Homo sapiens: one gene and its partner. The protein of the gene in region 1 purifies or fractionates together with the protein of each later gene. This does not show direct contact. Each region holds a gene or a part of one and is shown in the gene's direction. Other genes may lie near its edges.

Region 1 (7,026 bases):
TCATCACCAACCACTTTGGCTCCACCTATTCACATAAGGCCAGGCTCACCGTGAATGGTATGGAAACACCATCTTTGTTATAGTACCAGAATCCTACAAAGCACACTCCTGATTGCCCTTTCAGCTTTCCATGTAGAGATGACTGAGACAGGACACACACATGCTTCTGTGGGGCACTGTTAAATCCTATTGTTGCCTGGGTTTGCCCCAGAGCAAGTTTTGCAGATTTCAAGGGTTATTCACAATGAGTTACTTGTTTTTGGTGAGTTTTAAAAATCTAGTTATTGGCCGGGTGCTGTGGCTCATGCCTGTAATCCCAGCAGTTGGGAGACTGAGGTGGGCAGATCACTTGAAGCCAGGAGTTCGAGACTAGTGTGGCCAACATAGTGAAACCCCGTCTCTACTAAAAATACAAAAATTAGCCAGGTGTGGTGGCACATGCCTGTAATCCCAGCTACTTGGGAGGCTGAGGCACAAGAATTGCTTGAACCCAGGAGGTGGACGTTGCAGTGAGCCGAGATCACTCCACTGCATTCCAGCCTGGGTGTCAAAGTGAGACTGTCTCAAAAACAAAACAAAAACTAGTTATTAAGTCAAATTGTGGAGAGCTAAGCCTTGTTTTGTCCAGTTCTTATCCTCTATAAGCCAAGAGATCTGGCTTCCAAATTCCAAATACCCCTTAGCCTGGGGAAGCTGCTGTTCTTTGAGTAGATGGCACAGCATTGGAGTCAGAGGCTAGCTACTGCTCCAGAGACTGTGGAGTGCAAGGCTGGTGTGAGCCCTGGCCTGAAAGACACAGTGTCCTGGCAGTTGACAGGTTTTTACTCATTAACCAGCCTTGGAGCTTGTCAAGGGGACCATGTGTTATTGTGTGTTTGGAGGAGGGGGGTGGGGAGTAGATAGCTTGAAGAGTTTACTGTCCCACCCCAGTAACCTAATGGGGTTATCCTGATTACTAACTCTCTAGTTAAAAAGAATTGGCTTGAGAATCATCAGAATGGTGGATCTGCTTTGCTCTTTAAGCCCCCACAGATCACAGCGAAACACCTTCTTTACCACACTGTAGTGGGGTTGTCTTGGCTTATTCCAAGTCCTCACAGCTTCCGAAAGACTCAGCTGTTTGTTAGACTCTCCCCAAAATTGACGTTGACAGGAACTCTGGTGGTGCCTGACACGTGGCTGGATGCGTCCCACTCTGTCAGGACATCGATCTTTAGGCTGAGCAAGCTAGCAAGCTGAATGCTTCCTGCCTGGGTATACGGCAGTGGGCAGGAACAGCCTGGGTGAACAACCATCCAAATGGATGAGCCATCCCATTCATCCCATGAACACCCATCCAAACGGATGAGCCATCCCATTGCTCTCCCAAGGTGGAGGCATGCCCACCTTCCCTCTGTAATTCCATCTCCACAGCCTCTCTCTTGGTGGGTAAAGCAGGCAAGCATCAGGCCTACCTAGTGTGGATGGGCACCCCCTGCAACTCCCGTATAGGCACTGCCATGTAGAGTAAAAGCCTTTGCTTTGAAGGGACTATAGCCAGCCTAGGGTGTACAATGCAAGGCTGATGGGATGGAAGTGTTCCAACTGTGGTGGGAGAAGCTGGGGGTTCCTGATTCACAGGTGGCAGGAGTGGTCCTGGGCAGACATTGGGAGAAAAGAAGTGAACTGGCACTGGGCACAGTGACAGGTAGGTGTTTGCCAGAGGACTTCCTGGTTTTGCATCTAGCTGTCCCGTAACCCGACCCTGTATACGTATGTTTTCCAGTGTTGCCATCATTCACCAAAACGCCCCACGACATAACCATCCGGACCACCACCATGGCCCGCCTCGAATGTGCTGCCACAGGTCACCCAAACCCTCAGATTGCCTGGCAGAAGGATGGAGGCACGGATTTCCCCGCTGCCCGTGAGCGACGCATGCATGTCATGCCGGATGACGACGTGTTTTTCATCACTGATGTGAAAATAGATGACGCAGGGGTTTACAGCTGTACTGCTCAGAACTCAGCCGGTTCTATTTCAGCTAATGCCACCCTGACTGTCCTAGGTTTGCCTATTGCTCTACTGTGTGTGTGTGTGTGTGTGTGTGAGCGAGAGAGAGAGACTCTCAAATGCTCTGTGTGGCCAGGGGTGGTATGCGTTGTGGGCCTTTCGACCCTGTTTGAAATTTGGGGCTGCTTTTTGAGTTGAGTTAATTTTTCTTAAACAAGTGTTTCTATCTCTTTAAAAGAAATGATAGCTGGTGAATTAAGAGTCTTCATAGGGTTTAGCTACAGAACATTTTAAGAATTGGACAGGATGGATGTGGGCTTGGTCAAGAGCTACAGAACATTTTAAGAATTGGACAGGATGGATGTGGGCTTGGTCAAGAATAAGGACACAGGCCTGACACAGGACAGTTAGGGAATAGCAGGGGCTTTTGTCAGCAGAGGTTCACTGTCCCTGTGGAAGCCACTCCCAGCATGGAGATGACTCAGTCAATGAGTTGAAGGGTCTTCTCCAAAGCTTGCCACTCTGAGACAGAATCTCAGATGCATCTCATTGATATGTTGGATTGTCCGTTGTCCAGAAGACCGGGCAGAGCCAGAGCAACGGAGGCCCTGAGAATGACTAAGATCTCTGTTGCTCTCTTGTAGAGACCCCATCCTTGGTGGTCCCCTTGGAAGACCGTGTGGTATCTGTGGGAGAAACAGTGGCCCTCCAATGCAAAGCCACGGGGAACCCTCCGCCCCGCATCACCTGGTTCAAGGGGGACCGCCCGCTGAGCCTCACTGAGCGGCACCACTTGACCCCTGACAACCAGCTCCTGGTGGTTCAGAACGTGGTGGCAGAGGATGCGGGCCGATATACCTGTGAGATGTCCAACACCCTGGGCACGGAGCGAGCTCACAGCCAGCTGAGCGTCCTGCCCGCAGCAGGCTGCAGGAAGGATGGGACCACGGTAGGCATCTTCACCATTGCTGTCGTGAGCAGCATCGTCCTGACGTCACTGGTCTGGGTGTGCATCATCTACCAGACCAGGAAGAAGAGTGAAGAGTACAGTGTCACCAACACAGGTCAGGCCCTGCCAGCGGAGCTGACTTTCAAGGAGGGAGGAATGGCAGTGATGCTGGGGAACTGGGCCGGGTTCCAGTGGCTTTTGAAAGAATTGCACTGTGTTCAGAACTCCTGAGGGTTTAGTCCCACTAATTCCATTTTAACTTTGAGGAACTTAACCTTAAACAGGAATACTCTCAAATTTAACCTTAAACAGGAATACTCACAAATACAAGTAACTGACGCACCATGCAGTTTTCCCTCTCCTTGCTAACTCAGAGGCCGCCTATGCACAGGCCCTGCTGCCACGTAGTAGGTTGTTCCTGAAACAGTGCGGTACTTCTGTGAGCCCCGGCTTTCCATCACTGGTCTCCACTTCTTGTGGCGTCTGGCATCTGCTGGCTGCGCTCTTCACGCTGGGTGTAGAGTAAAGCTGAGCAGGCTCTGGGAGGGCCTGTTGCGTACATGGACTCCATGTCATCTCTCTGCACAGCGCTGATGGTCGTCACTGGGAGGATCCCCTTTCTGAGCTTGACAGTGAACGTGTGTCTGCATTTCTTGTCACTGAGACCCTGGTGTTCTATTTGTTCTGTCTCCTTGCAGATGAAACCGTCGTGCCACCAGATGTTCCAAGCTACCTCTCTTCTCAGGGGACCCTTTCTGACCGACAAGAAACCGTGGTCAGGACCGAGGGTGGCCCTCAGGCCAATGGGCACATTGAGAGCAATGGTAAGGCCTCAGTAACTGTGAAGCAGAGCTCTGCTGTGACTGTGTCTCTGGGTGCTGGAGGTGGCCTCCAGGTCTTTACAGGGCAGGTACCTGGCATTAGATGGGGCAAACTTGGTGAAGTAGAAGGCGGTATGACTAAGGGCTGCTATTTTGGACCCAGTCTTCATGAGTTCTGCAAGGTTTTAAAGTCCTGTCCCCTCAGGAAGCCACTGGATTGGGCTTAGCATCTCCCTGGCAGGATAAAGTAGGCTTGCCTGGAGTAGCAGCTGGAAAGGGCATTACGGTGCATGAACCCAGCCAACCCATTCCTTACATGGGGAACGTGCCCAGGTCTGCTCTGTGATCCAGTCTTACACTGGAAAGCTGTCACCAGGATGAGGTACTTCCAACGGTGGGGGCCTCTGAGCACTTGCCTGAGACTGTAGAGGCTCACCCTGAGACAGCTGCTCATTTCACAAGGCCAGCCTGCCTGCTGGGAAGTAGTAGCAGAAAACACGCTGCTTGCCAGACCAGCAGCCCCACCGCTCTGAAGAACTTTTTAAAAAAAATGACTGTTCTAGCGGCCTTGCTCATTCCTTTCATAAGGCTTACTGTGAAATACCAAGCCCAGAGTTTCTAATCGTGTTGGAATCCACTTGCAGGTGTGTGTCCAAGAGATGCAAGCCACTTTCCAGAGCCCGACACTCACAGCGTTGCCTGCAGGCAGCCAAAGCTCTGTGCTGGGTCTGCGTATCACAAAGAGCCGTGGAAAGCGATGGAGAAAGCTGAAGGGACACCTGGGCCACATAAGATGGGTATGAGATGCTTCCCATTGGAAGTAGTTTCTTTCTGAAATGGAAATTTGGGCTGACCTAGTCACTACATCAAAGGGGGAGACACATTCCTAGTCCACAGCTGTCTCCAAATTTGGTATTCAGTATATACAGGGGAAGCTCAGGCCTGGCTCTCTTAATTCCAGGATAGTTTCTCCTAAATAAATCTACGCCATGGTAAGCCTGAGCATGAATTTTCTAGATGTATAAGCAACTTAAATAAGGGGCAAGGCACAAACGAAGTATAGAGTTTCAGTCAGCACTTTTTCACCAGGGCTATTTTGAGGCTTATTTCTAATTGTTGAAAAGACCCAACACTGCATGGTACCTAAGGCTAATGGCTTTTCCCCCGTGAAGCAGTAAGACTACATTGTCTATGAAATTCACTGTAAACACGAAAGACCCCACAGTTCATGAGTGACTTGGTGTTTGCCCAGTCCTTTCTCTGGGGACATAGTTGGGGAAAAGAGGAAGCATGCATACAGTGTTTGCAGTCAGGGTTCTCACCTTGCACAGTGGAGCTGAGCAGCCTGTCCTCTGTGTGGGGACGAAGACTCCCACAGCAGTGACTCTAACCCATCTTTGGCGCTGTCCTTCAGAACACGGTGGCCGGGTCGTATGCAGTGACTGCAACACCGAAGTGGACTGTTACTCCAGGGGACAAGCCTTCCACCCCCAGCCTGTGTCCAGAGACAGCGCACAGCCAAGTGCGCCAAATGGCCCGGAGCCGGGTGGGAGTGACCAAGAGCATTCTCCACATCACCAGTGCAGCAGGACTGCCGCTGGGTCCTGCCCCGAGTGCCAAGGGTCGCTCTACCCCAGTAACCACGATAGAATGCTGACGGCTGTGAAGAAAAAGCCAATGGCATCTCTAGATGGGAAAGGTAACTTTTGACTGTCTTCTAACAGGTGGGTTGGGAGCTGCTTAAACGGTCAAGTGGGGGTCTGACAGGTTCGTTCTTTCCTTGTAGGGGATTCTTCCTGGACTTTAGCAAGGTTGTATCACCCGGACTCCACAGAGCTACAGCCTGCATCTTCATTAACTTCAGGCAGTCCAGAGCGCGCGGAAGCCCAGTACTTGCTTGTTTCCAATGGCCACCTCCCCAAAGCATGTGACGCCAGTCCCGAGTCCACGCCACTGACAGGACAGCTCCCCGGGAAACAGAGGGTGCCACTGCTGTTGGCACCAAAAAGCTAGGTTTTGTCTACCTCAGTTCTTGTCATACCAATCTCTACGGGAAAGAGAGGTAGGAGAGGCTGCGAGGAAGCTTGGGTTCAAGCGTCACTCATCTGTACATAGTTGTAACTCCCATGTGGAGTATCAGTCGCTCACAGGACTTGGATCTGAAGCACAGTAAACGCAAGAGGGGATTTGTGTACAAAAGGCAAAAAAAGTATTTGATATCATTGTACATAAGAGTTTTCAGAGATTTCATATATATCTTTTACAGAGGCTATTTTAATCTTTAGTGCATGGTTAACAGAAAAAAATTATACAATTTTGACAATATTATTTTTCGTATCAGGTTGCTGTTTAATTTTGGAGGGGGTGGGGAAATAGTTCTGGTGCCTTAACGCATGGCTGGAATTTATAGAGGCTACAACCACATTTGTTCACAGGAGTTTTTGGTGCGGGGTGGGAAGGATGGAAGGCCTTGGATTTATATTGCACTTCATAGACCCCTAGGCTGCTGTGCGGTGGGACTCCACATGCGCCGGAAGGAGCTTCAGGTGAGCACTGCTCATGTGTGGATGCCCCTGCAACAGGCTTCCCTGTCTGTAGAGCCAGGGGTGCAAGTGCCATCCACACTTGCAGTGAATGGCTTTTCCTTTTAGGTTTAAGTCCTGTCTGTCTGTAAGGCGTAGAATCTGTCCGTCTGTAAGGCGTAGAATGAGGGTTGTTAATCCATCACAAGCAAAAGGTCAGAACAGTTAAACACTGCCTTTCCTCCTCCTCTTATTTTATGATAAAAGCAAATGTGGCCTTCTCAGTATCATTCGATTGCTATTTGAGACTTTTAAATTAAGGTAAAGGCTGCTGGTGTTGGTACCTGTGGATTTTTCTATACTGATGTTTTCGTTTTGCCAATATAATGAGTATTACATTGGCCTTGGGGGACAGAAAGGAGGAAGTTCTGACTTTTCAGGGCTACCTTATTTCTACTAAGGACCCAGAGCAGGCCTGTCCATGCCATTCCTTCGCACAGATGAAACTGAGCTGGGACTGGAAAGGACAGCCCTTGACCTGGGTTCTGGGTATAATTTGCACTTTTGAGACTGGTAGCTAACCATCTTATGAGTGCCAATGTGTCATTTAGTAAAACTTAAATAGAAACAAGGTCCTTCAAATGTTCCTTTGGCCAAAAGCTGAAGGGAGTTACTGAGAAAATAGTTAACAATTACTGTCAGGTGTCATCACTGTTCAAAAGGTAAGCACATTTAGAATTTT
Region 2 (7,026 bases), on another chromosome or scaffold:
TTATTGGATATGTGGAGCCCCAAATGGGCTGACGTGAGAATGTTGGGGTAGGTGGTGGGTGGCTGGATTTAGCAAAGAAAAATGTAGGCTACCCAGTTAACTTTGAATTTCACATGGATTTTTTTTTTTTTTTTTAGTATAAGCATGAAATACTTATACCATACTTTTAGCATTAAGCGTGGAATTTGGGACATAATTATACTAAAATATCATTCATTGTTTATCTCAAATTAAAATATCACTGGGTACCCTGTATTTTATCATATGTTCGAGTGCCTTCTGTCAGAATTTGGTGACCCTTTGAGTCTGTTTTAAAAAGGAGCATGTTTGGCCGGACACAGTGGCTCACGTCTGTAATCCCAGCACTTTGGGAGGCTGAGGCGGGCAGATCACTAGAGGTCAGGGGTTCAAGACCAGCCTGGCCAACATGGTGAAACCCCGTCTCTAATAAAAATACAAAAATTAGCCAGGTGTGGTGGTGCATCCCTGTAATCCCAGCTACTTGGGAGGCTGAGTCAGGAGAATTGCTTGAACCCCAGAGGTAGAGGTTGCAGTGAGCCAAGATTGAGCCACTGGACTCCAGCCTGGACAACAGAGAAAGACTCCCTCAAAAAAAAAAGAAAAAAAGCATGTTCCCACCTCCCCATAAGGAAAGGCTCTTCAGAGGAAGTTGAAGGAACAGAGGCTTTATGTTTGATTTTTGCTTTAATCTGATGCCTACTGTTTGATTATTCAATATTTAGAGATGGTACTTTGGCAATCAAGTTATTTCTCTCCCCAGGTTGCCCACTTCAATTTTTAGTATAAGGATGTCCCAGAGGGATAAATGCCATCAAAGTTGTCTTTCTTCTTCTGAACTGTAACTGGGATTCCACACCCTCCTTTTCCACCCCTCCCTAGTTGAGCAATAAAGGGGAAAATAACAGTATACAAATATTCCCAGGCCAGTTCCTGGTGTCAAGGTACACAGCCATGGATGAATCATGAGGCTTGAGTGCATCAGAGACCTAAGCGTGGGCAGGAACCCCCAGAGTACCCATGTGAATGTTCTGCTTGCTGCCTCGCACCTTTTATGACAATTCCCACAAGAAGCTATGTGGTCTGTTTCTACTTCTGAAAGAGCAGCCTTTTTCCCTTTTTTTTTTTTTTAAACCACCATCCTTTAAATCATTTATTATGTAACTCTTGTGTGCTGGTCAGTCAGTGTGTCAAAAGTGTAAAAACTTCTTTATTTATTTTTTTAATCTATCTTTTAAAAAATATTTTCTTTCTTTTTTTCTTTTTTCTTCAAGGCAGGTTCTTGCTCTGTCACCCAGGCTGGAGTGCAGCAGCACAATCATAGCTCATTGTAACCCAGAACACCTGGGCTCAAGCAATCCTCCCACCTCAGCCTCCTAAGCAGTGAGGACTATAGGCATGCACCACTACACCTGGCTAATTAAAAAAACATGGCCGGGCACGGTGGCTCATTACTATAATCCCAGCACTTTGGGAGGCTGAGGCGGGTGGATACCTGAGGTCGGGAGTTCAAGACCAGCCTGACCAACATGGTGAAACCCCATCTCTACTAAAAATACAAAATTAGCCAGGCACGGTGGCACATGCCTGTAATCCCAGCTACTCAGGAGGCTGAGGCAGGAGAATCACTTGAACCCGGGAGGCGGAGGTTGCAGTGAGCCATTGCACTCCAGCCTGGCAACAGAGCGAGACTCTGTCTCAAAAAAAAAAAAACAAAAAAATTTTTTTGTAGAGATGGGGGTCTTGCTGTGTTGCCCAGGCTGATCTCAAACTTCTAGCCATAAGTGATCCTACCGCATCAACTTCCCAAAGCACTGGGATTATGGGTATGAGCTACTGAGCCCTGCCAAATTTCTTTATATTAAACCAAAACGTACATTTACTGATATTTGGAAAGAAAGCTCTTTTACTTTTATGCCTTCATCCAGTCTTCATAGATATCTTCCCTTTTACATTATAACTGTAAATACTGAGGTTAGAGAGGTTAACTAGTTAGTTCAACAGAATAATATAAATATTGAATAATATAATTAATGAATAATTAGTGCTGAACCTGTCGCCTCAGCCAGGTCTCCTGATTCCAAATACAGTTTGCCCCAGCTCCCCACAGTCTTCTAGCTTCTCTGCCAGTGGAGCAAATTTTCCCTAGGTTTACAGGCCTAAGCACAGATTCTTAGTTACTTAGTGCAAGTATTGCCAGAGCCCAAGGGGTGAATTCCAAAGGGTTTTTACAAGGCTATACATAAAAGATAAAGCCCTGGCTTGTATATCACTTGCACATAGGAGATAAAGCCCCAGCAGTTGTATGTAAATTTCAAAAGCAGAGAAGTATGGCACAAAGAAACTCCTGATAGTAACACTGTGTTCCCACTTTGCTTAGGGGCATATTGGCACCGTAGCATGGTACACCCTTACTGCTACCTGCCATGAGGCCAGATAATAGCTAGCAGCCCCTGGTCTCATTCTACTCTGGATGGGTACTGCTGTTTCCTGAATGAAAGACACTGAGATTGATTTCATGCTAATGACTGTTGGTTAAGAGTTCATGCTTTCTATTCACAATAGCAAAGACTTGGAACCAACCCAAATGTCCGTCAATGATAGACTGGATTAAGAAAACGTGGCACATATACACCATGGAATACTATGCAGCCATAAAAAAGGATGAGTTCATGTCCTTTGTAGGGACATGGATGAAGCTGGAAACCGTCATTCTTAGCAAACTATTGGAAGGACAGAAAACCAAACACCACATGTTCTCACTTATAGGTGGGAATTGAACAATGAGAACACTTGGATACAGGAAGGGGAACATCACACACCGGGGCCTCTTGTGGGGTAGGGGGAGGGGGGAGGGATAGCATTAGGAGATATACCTAATGTAAATGACGAGTTAATGGGTGCAGCAGACCAACATGGCACATGTATACATATGTAACAAACCTGCACGTTGTGCACATGTACCCTAGAACTTAAAGTATAAAAAAAAAAAAAAGTTCATGCTTTGTGGACAGGTAGCCTGAGTTCATTCATAGCTCTACTATTTACCTGAAACCTTGGACTAATTATTTCACTTTTCTGTGCCCCAGTGTTGTAATCTGTAGGATGGGGTACTGCCTGCTCCACAGTGGGACTATGAGAATGCTTAAAATAATGCCAAGCGCACAGTCAGCTCAATAAATGTCATCTATGTAGACAATGAAATTCAAGCATAATTCCTTAAACCTTTGTGCCATACATCCCTTTGGCAGTCTGGTAAAGCCTTCATTCCTTCTCAGCATCATGTTTTTAAATGAGTAAAATAAAATATATAGGATTACACAGGAAACCAATTAAATACTGCTACCAAGCTATTTAAAAATCTATGATATAATATGCTTTTTAAATTAAACCCTTAAATGGATCTAGAGGTAGGTAAATGTCTAACAGCAGATATTTTGAAGTTGCAATGAATGTAAATGGCACTTTGAGCTATCTACAACTGAAATGCGATAGAAAAGTATCTATAATTTCTATTAGTGACAGTCACAAATACTACTAATAGTATTGTGGTTTGTTGCTTATACTCATCATCAAAGGAAATACTCAATTTGAGTTAAAGGTTTAAATAAAGATGTATTTTTCCCCCATCCAAGTTCATGGATCCCTGAATTCTACCCATGGATTCCTTGGTCACTGGACTCCATAGGGGTCACTTGGGGAATGATTGTGACACCAATGAAGGAAGCCAGCGGATACTGTTTGCTGTATTATACCTACCATAGGCTCGTGATGAGGAAATAATAAAATAAATAACTGTAATGAAAAAGAAAAGAAAGGAAAACAAAAGGAACCTAAAACAGAGAAGGCAAATAGCTTTCCTTTTGAGTGTCAATTTTAACAGACTCCCTGTGGTTGCGAAACAATGTGTCTGAGGCTGGCTCTGGGTTAGAGGGAGAGTGCTGTTATTGATTAGCAATTCCTGCATGACAGCAGAGTGGCAACAGCCATGCATCTCTGACCTGGCACAGTCATAAGCATGTTATAGACATAAAGTGTTAGGGAACAAATAGGCTCTAGCAAAAGTAAAGAGTGTTCCTCCTCTCATATCATCACTTATATGTGTTTATACCATTTATGTTGTATTTTTTACATGAATACTTTTAGATTTATTAATCTAATCCAAAAAGGTTTGTATAGCTTTCTCTATATTAAGAGAAATATATGTATTTCTTAAATACACAAAGTTCTTAAATCTGATGCCAGCGAGGATTGCTTCCAGCCACAAGTAACATATATCAGATTAATAGTAGTTCATTCAAAGAGGGATTTATTTTCCTCACATGAAAAACAGCTCTGTGGGTGACCCAATATAGAGCTTGTTCATTGAGCCAGTGATTATATCAAGGAACTGGGTTCTTCATATATTTTCATTCTTTGATCTCCCCCTATTGACTTTATAGCTGTATCTTTCTCAAGGATGCAGAATGGCTGCCGCAGTCTCAAACACTGCGTGTGTGTTCAAATCATGAAGAAAGGAGATTGAGTGATGCCAGCTAGCTCTCTTCTCGTGACTCTCCTTTGTATCTAGAACACAGTGTCTTTCCCCAAAACCTGGGTCATATGACTACACCTCAATACAGCGGAGTCTGGGAAAGCAAATATTTGCTTTGCCCACCACTACAATAGAAACGACAAGGGAGAAAGAAAGGGGGTTGGGCATGGCGTTAATTTTGTCAGCCGCTAGGGTCTGCCACCCAGAAAACAGAAGTCCACTAACAAGCAGGGAACTGATTGTTCTGCCAGGGAAAAAGTCTGGCAGTTTCCTACTGAAGAAATTTGGAAGTCTTGATGGTCCAGGAAGGATAAAGGCAAAACCTTCATTTTCTTTTATCAAAAAGGAAAGCCAAGAAAAAAATTAGTTAAGTAGAAGTTATGCACAACCCTCATGTAACTCTTCCATGTTAATAGCAGGTAGGCTGCATATGAAAACATGATATTATACAAGAAAACTAGTTGATGAAGATTGCCCTATTTAGCACCAATTACTTACGCAAACCTAAGTTGACTCTGAAACAGGAACCCCATATTAAACTTTTCAAACACATCAGAATATGTTACTTTGAACAGATTTTATTTAATCCAAAGAGATTATCTTTGAAAAAGGTAGATGGTAAACATCGTTATCCCTATTTTTGTATAGTCAAATAGGCATAGTAGTAAGTTGTGTAAAATTGACATCCAAACCAATGCATGATACTAAAACTTGGTGTACAAACAGCAGTTACATCCTATTGCTTTGTATCTACATCTGTTTCTGGAGTCATATAACATTTGTAGAATCTTGGAGGTGTTTTAGGCTCATCCTTATTTTATCCATAAAGAAGACTGACACCTATAGAGATTAACTGACCTGCCAAGGGTCATGGCAGTTTCACTGCTGAGACAAGAACACAGATCCCTTTACTTCTTTCTGAGAAAAGTACAAAGTAGTTTAAAGCAAAAGCTTCCCTGCTTCCAGCACTTCTGGCTAAGTTGCGCCGTGGGAAAATTGTTTTGTCTGATTCAGTTTTCTCATCTTTTAAACTGGAATAATGCTACCTAATTTACAGGGTTGTTTGAAGAATTAAATGAATGCATGGAGGTAAATCACTTAGAACAGCGGTAAATTATACTTTTTTATTATTTATTTCCTTTGACCACCCACAATTATCATCAGTGTCATCCTCATCATCACAATTAAGATTACTACCACATTAGGCTACATAAACTTTTTTTTTCTCTCTCTGTTTTATAATTTCAATTTTATTTTAGATTCAAGGGGTACATGTGCAGGTTTTACATGGGTATATTGTCTGATGCTGAGGTTTGGGGAACAACTGATGCCATCACCCAGGTAGTGAGTATAGTACCCTATAGTTTTTCAGCCCTTGTCTACTCCCTTCCCTTCCCCTTCTAGTAGTCCCCAGTGTCTACCATCGTCATCTTTATGTCCATGTGCACCATTGTTTAGCTCCCAGTTAAAGTGAGAACATGCAGTATTTGGTTTTCTAGCTTATTTTTCCTCTCTTAAATCACTTCTGTGACACGTAGGCCATGAGATTTATTGTATTTTTTAATGCCTTATTTAAAAATTTGTATTATTTAATACATTTAATGCATTATTTTTTATTATATTTAAATATTGATTTATTTGTACTTTTTGCCTTATTGCTATATTGTTTCAAAAAATTTAACATTATTTGAGTTACATGATTTCAAATACATACTGATTAACATTTTAATTAGAAACTTTATGTCTGATATGAATTGCCAAAATGTGTAGTTGGTACAACCTATGAGTCATTCTGGGTTATCTAGAAGAAACTGGTAGCCTGCCCCATACTCCAGAAGCCTTCCCCAGTGTCTAGACCTCAGAAGCTGTCAGGAATATGCACAGGAGAAGGACACATGGCAAATAGCTATTTCGTCTCTTAAATGTATGGTATGTGGGAACCACTGAAAAATGTAAAGTTTCTACAAGGTGCTATTTTTATTATTTATGGCTCTAGAGAACAGAGAAGGTGAAAAATGTGAGAGAGAAGGGAAAGCCAATAGTATGTGGCCTTCAAAACAAAAGATCCCACAGATATTGTCCCAAACTGCTTCCTGGCCCTCTAGAGTGGAGAGGGAGGGGGAAGACATCCTATTAGAGTTCAACATTCTCTTATTATTTCCTTCTTTTAATTTTCTGGGTATACAACAGCAAATAGTTTTGCTGAAGTAGTTACAGAACTAGTTGGTGTTCTCCAACCTTCCTATTCCAATACATACTGTCATGGATGGGTACACTAAAATCTCAGAATTCACTGCTATATCACTCATCCATGTAACCAAAAACCACATGTACCCCCAAAAGCTATTGAAATAAGATAAATACATTCTTATTTAAAAAAATACTGTCATAGGGATGCTACCTTCTTTTCTTTTTTGTTAGTAACTATTTGTGGGATGTCTTTGGTGTGTCAGGCTCTGAGCAATGCCATTTTC

The links.
Region 2: the proteins of LRIG1 (region 1) and PON2 purify together in Homo sapiens (affinity purification with mass spectrometry; 3 studies listed by BioGRID and IntAct, with this or other methods). This does not show direct contact.

The regions. Positions count from the first base shown.
Region 1 is NC_000003.12:66,379,012-66,386,037, reverse strand, and holds part of LRIG1 (leucine-rich repeats and immunoglobulin-like domains protein 1 isoform 1 precursor), read left to right. Parts: coding exon 1-57; intron 58-1,765; coding exon 1,766-2,047; intron 2,048-2,636; coding exon 2,637-3,056; intron 3,057-3,639; coding exon 3,640-3,765; intron 3,766-4,406; coding exon 4,407-4,559; intron 4,560-5,176; coding exon 5,177-5,461; intron 5,462-5,548; coding exon 5,549-5,775; 3' UTR 5,776-7,026. UniProt on the Homo sapiens protein: Acts as a feedback negative regulator of signaling by receptor tyrosine kinases, through a mechanism that involves enhancement of receptor ubiquitination and accelerated intracellular degradation.
Region 2 is NC_000007.14:95,425,023-95,432,048, reverse strand, and holds part of PON2 (serum paraoxonase/arylesterase 2), read left to right. Parts: intron 1-7,026. UniProt on the Homo sapiens protein: Capable of hydrolyzing lactones and a number of aromatic carboxylic acid esters. Has antioxidant activity. Is not associated with high density lipoprotein.